Linked DNA regions of Homo sapiens: region 2 is linked to region 1. Evidence: fine-mapped expression QTL. A gene starts in region 1. The other region holds a variant in brackets. All regions are shown on one strand. Distances are from middle to middle.

Region 1 (2,500 bases):
ATTATTAACATCTTTACTTGAAAGGCCTTCCAATCCCAAAGTGTGACTGAAACAAACAAAAAACCAATTTGGCTGAGGAGCAGTGCCAGGCGGGCTGGCACACACCCCATTTGGAGCCAAAGGAAACAGAATCATCGCAGCAATTCTGTCCGGGTTCCAGAGGCCCTTGGCTACTGGATTCCTTACAAATGCCAAGTCCCTGGGGGCAGACAGGGCCAACAGACCTGCTTCATCACCCACCCCTCCAAAGGCACCGAGGCCCTAGAAGAGGTGAGAACATCTGCCTCCACACCGACCCCAAACAGCGCAGACAGGCGGTGCGGCGCCCACTTTCATGAAAGCCGCTCCATCTTCTCCTTCCCCACCTGCCACCTCCTCGGCTGCTCAAGCATCTCTCGACCATGCAAGACTCTACACAGACGTGTTTTGTCCCACCCACGCCTCCAGACACCGGGGAGAAACTCTAGAGGGGGAAGGGACTGCTGATGAGGGAAATGAAAAGAGTTTCGCCCACAAGGAGCTTACAGTCTAGACGAGTTTTTTGGCGGGAGTTTCTCAACCTACACAGCCCTTCCCACATACACACCTCCAAAATATCTCCAACAACCCCCGCCCCCCCAGATTTCCCCTCGGCACCCCCTGACCCCTCGCTCACCCACCCCATCCAGGTCCCCGAAGAATGAGGAGCTTCTGCAATTAGACTGTATCCCCTGCACCTCACACAAGATACTCAGGAGACAAGGAGGACCCCAGCCAAGGCTCCTGCTCCTTTAAGGGGGCACCTCTTCCAGAAGAATCTTGACCCCTCGGAGAAGAAAGGAGGGAAATAACATCTCCTCAGAGGGGAGGGGCGAGCGCACCAGAGACAGCCTGACGTGGAGTCCGACCCTCAGACAGAGAAAGCGAGCGCCAGCGAATGAGCGGGGCGGAGAGGCGAGAACCCATTGGCTGCGTCACCTGCCCGTCAGAGGGACCCAGGGGACCTAGGGCCGCTCAAGGGGCGGGACTCTCGTCTGGCCAGGCCAATTGGAAGGCGTGGCGGGGGCGGGGCTTAGCGGCTCGGAATCCAGGGCTGGGGGGGGAGACAAGATGGCGGCTGCGGGAGGGGGTCCTCGCTTCTCAGCTCCCCCGCTCACCCGCCTTCTCCTTCCCTGCCGCCGCCCTCGCTCCAGGAGAGAGCTTTCGCACCGCCCCCGCCCTGCTCGGAAAGCCCCCCGCTTCTCCGGTTTCCCCCCGTGCAGTCCCTGGTCCCCGAAGGCCCCGATGCCCCCGCCCCCGCTCTGTCCGGCCCCGCTGCCGCCCCCATTACCTCAGCCGCCTGCCCGGCCCCACCGTTCGGGGCCCCTGGGCGCGGGCGGGCAGGCCGCCGAGCAGGTCGGCGCGGCCCGGGAAGCGGAGCGCGGTCTTCTCCCGCGCCTGCCTCCGTGGCCTCCGCCGTGCCCCCTCCCGGCCCGCGCTGGGGCCCCGGCCCGGCCGCCGCCGCCGCTCCCGGGGGAGGAGGGGGAATGGAGCCGCCGCTGCTGCCGCTGCCGCCACGGAGCCCGGCCGAGGGGAGGGAGGGATCAGCCCCCAGGCAGGATCCGCCCCTCCGGCCTCCCCCCGCCACCTCCACCCCTTCCCTCGCTCCCTCCCTGACTCTGCGGGCTCTCCCGCTGAACAGGAGCGAGAGCGCGAAAGAGGGGGAAACGGGAAAAAAATCCCCCCGCCCGTGCCTGGCGCGGCGGCGGCCGGGGCGGTGCGGAGAGGAGCGCGGAGGCGCCGCCGCCGCCGCCACGGGGCACCATCCCCGGCTCGGCCTCACGGTGGCGGTGCGGGCGCGGCGGGGACACCGAGCAAGAGACCGGGTCTGCGCCCGCCGCGATCCCTGCGCACCACGGCCCTGCCCGCCACGGGGCGAGCCCGATAAGAGGGCTGTGGACGTTCGGGTCTAGTTGGGAGAGACAGGGGTCCCTGACTCTTGAGCGGTCAGTCATTTCCTCCCCAGTCCTTGTGGGTGACGTGGCTACGGTTTGGAGCAGCAAGCCCCCTCCCCGAACTAAAGGGCCTCTCCAAAGGTTAAGCCAGGGCAGTCATTGAGGTCAAAACCAATATGTAGTTTCTTGACTGCAGGTGCCTGCACGACTCCCAGAAAGTCGCGTCTCCCCTAACCCCCATGCCCAGGACCTGAGGACAAAGGTCTAGCGATTGTCCATCCCCTCCCCCAGTGAGGACAGCCGGGAAAGACCTGCCTTTGTTGTGTACAGGTGAGCGTCTTGTTCCGCACCACACATCTTTTAAAAAAAAAAAAAAAAAATCTGACTTTCCGTTTAAAAGGAGTAAACAAAAGTTTGACAGTCTGCTTAAGCATGCCTGGTAACTCGTCTGTCACTGTGGGCATGGGAAACACTTTAAACCTGACTTGGTTAATTTAATGCATTAGGCGGCTTTCTAAAAGATGCTTGACAAATGGCAGCATCAGACCAAACTGGCTTTTGTTTTGATCTAAAAAAACAAAAAAATA
Region 2 (3,011 bases), 43 kb before region 1:
GAGCCTGAGGCCGGAGGATTATTGAGGTTGAGAGTTCAAGACCAGCCTGGGCAACATAGTGAGACCTTGTCTCTATAAAAGAAGTTTTAAAAATTAGCCAGGTGTGATGGCTCATGCTTGTAGTCCCAGCTAATTGGGAGGCTGAGGTAGGAGGATCGTTTCTTGAGCCCTGGAGGTTGAGGCTGCAGTGAGCCATGATTGCACCACTGCACTCCAGCCTGGGCAACAGAATGAGACCCTGTCTCAAAAAATAAAATTAAATTAGAAAACAATAATAATTATTATTAATAAATAAAATAGTCCAATGAAAATAATCATACTATCTCCATGCAATGGAATTCTATACAAGAGTGAAAATGAACTAACTCCGGACATGCGTATCAGTACACTGAACTTCAGAACTATAATTATGGGTGGGACAAAAGCCAGCCATAGAAAACTATTCTATTCATAATCCCAAAAAGGTAGTATACCATATTCAATTATTATATATATTTATGTCTTGTTATATATAATGTTTATTACATTTATCTTAGTATAAAAATATAGTATATTTATCATAATCTATTATAAACAAGTAGTAGGATTATAAAAAGACAAAAAGGGCAGGATAAGCGTAAAATTCATGATAGTATTTAGGGGAAGAGGAGGGTGGGGCTGGAGAGAGGCACATGGTTTCAAAAGCCCAGCTTCTTTGTCTAAAACAGGGCGTGGGTACCCATACTGGTCTATTGTATTGTGGGTGTCTTTAAAATGTATATATATTCTATAACTACTATTTTTGTATCTACTCAATATTTAATTTTAAAATTTTAAATGAGGCCTAGAACACTATAAAAAGTATGCTACCATTTGTATAGAAAAAGTGGACACACACATCACTCATGTGCATAGATTAAAGTGTCTCTGGAAACTTACACATGCAACTGGTGAAACTGGTTTCCTCTGGGGAGGAGAACTGGGAGGCTGGGGACAAGGAGGGGCAATAAATCAATTGAAATTAAAAATCACAAAATTTAAGGAGAAGGAGACAAAGAAGGGAAGGAGGAAGAGAAGGGAGGGTGGAGGGGAGAGGCCAAGTCCTGGTCCCAGGAGGGACAGGGAGCAGAAAGAGGAGGACTGGCCAGGCTCTGGCTATCAAAACCTGTGTGTGCCACAGGCACGAGTGGAGCCAGAAGCCTGCAGTCCTGCCCAGGAAAGCCTGTGTCCTCCGCGCACAACTCAGGCTTAGACCCAGAGAATGCTCTTTCTTGCACCTGAGGACGGGGCTGGCTTCAAACAGTTGCCCAGGTTGACCCTGGCTCTGCAGTCTTTTGTTTCCAGAGCTTTGCTTCCAAACGAGGCTCCCTTGGGTCTCTTTCCCTGGCCCTGCCTTCTTATCTCCAACCTTCACCCCACCTGTGATCCAAGCGATTCCTTTGAAGTTGCTTCAGAGTCTTCTGAGCCTTCATCCTTGATGACTCTGAAATGTGCGTCTGTGGCACCAAGGTCAGCCAACAGCAAGTAGGCCCTTTTCATCTCCTTTTAAACCTTCCCCTCAAGGACTCAGTGTCCTTGCTGTATTGCCTTATCAAAACCTGCTCACA[T/C]ATCCTTTGTTCACACTGGGATACCGGTCATTTAAAGGAAAACAGGCCCACTCTAACCAGGGTCACTGCCAAGTCCCTAAGTATCATGCCCTTGAGAGGTAAAAGCATAAAGCACTAAGGGTAGAATTTTGGGCAACAGCCAGTGGACAAGGACAAAATGGGTGCAATATGCAGGGGTCCCTTCTGCCCCACCGGTAACCATAACACCTCAGGACACAGGCTGGGGTCTGTATTCAAAAGTGGGTCCCTCAGACCGGGCACAGTGGCTCACGCCTATAATCCCAGCACTTTGGGAAGCCAAGGCCAGCGGATCCCTTGAGCCCAGGAGTTTGTGACCAGCCTGAGCAACATGGCGAAACCCCATCTCTACAAAAAATACCAAAATTAGTCTAGTCGGGCATGGTGGTGCACACACCTATGGTCCCAGCTATTTGGGAGGCTGAGGGGGGAGAATCGCTTGAGCCCCAGGAGGCAGAGATTGCAGTGAGCTGTGATCGAGCCACTGCACTCCAGCCTGGGCAACAGAGTGAGACCCTATCTCAAGAAAACAAAAACAGAAAGTAAAAAAGCAATCCTCGAGCAAAAGTGGGTCCCTCAGAGCCCAATGACAGTGATGAGGAGGATGAGGTGGGAAAGGTAGTGTTACTCTGAACTAAAAAGGACTGCCCAGTGTGACCCTATCTCCCAAACAGCCCATGCAGGGATCTGGGTGGCACCATAGTACAGAAGTGGGTGCCAAGAGAGGCCTGGGCTGCACAGCCAGGTGCATACATGCCCTGGAGTCCAGGACAGGATCAGCAGCAAATCCACTCCAGGGAGCTCTCCCCCCTCACCATCCTCTCAATCAGGGTTCCCCAGTTGAAAAGCACCTTGGCAGTTCATAATTCTCCCTCTAAAGCCAGAAAGTGCTGTAAAGGATAACAGAAGCCTGGCTGCACAGTGGAGCTTAATGGAAGTCATTCAACAAGCAGGTCTGGAGCAAACATCATGGACCAGCAGTACTGTGTGTTGGCACAGATGTGAAGCAACTATACTCTGATACGGCTTGGATATGTGTCCCCACCCAAATCTCATATTGAATTTTAATTCCCAGTGTTAGAGGAGGGGCCGGGTGGGAGGTGACTGGATCATGGGGGCAGATTTCCCCCTTACTGTTCTCACGATAGTGAGTTCTCAGATCTGGTTATTTTAAAGTGTGTAGCACCTCCCACTTTGCTCCCTTCCTCCTGCTTTGGCCATGTAAGATGTGCCTGCTTCGCCTTCCCCTTCCGCCATGATTCTATGTTTCCTGAGGCCTCCCCAGCCATGCTTCCTATACAGTCTGCAGAACCGTGAGCCAATTAAACCTCTTTTCTTTATAAATTACCAAGTCTCAGGTATTTCTTTATAGCTGTGCGAGATCAGACTAATACAGGTGGGGAGCTG

What was found.
Region 2: its variant is fine-mapped to the expression of BRPF3 in whole blood (TOPMed, PIP above 0.99).

What each region holds. Positions count from the first base shown.
Region 1 is chr6:36,195,780-36,198,279 of GRCh38, reverse strand. BRPF3 (bromodomain and PHD finger containing 3) reads right to left here and starts at 1,536. Exons shown (of 13, transcript NM_015695.3): 1 at 1,310-1,536. It overlaps BRPF3-AS1 (BRPF3 antisense RNA 1), which reads left to right and starts at 1,077. Exons shown (of 3, transcript NR_187147.1): 1 at 1,077-2,243. RefSeq lists an enhancer at 782-831 and a silencer at 1,182-1,921.
Region 2 is chr6:36,238,397-36,241,407 of GRCh38, reverse strand. No RefSeq gene overlaps it. Among named protein-coding and RNA genes, the nearest start is that of PNPLA1, 30 kb to the left of the region's middle. RefSeq lists a silencer at 1,282-1,576. The variant T/C (reference allele first, on the strand shown) is at 1,587.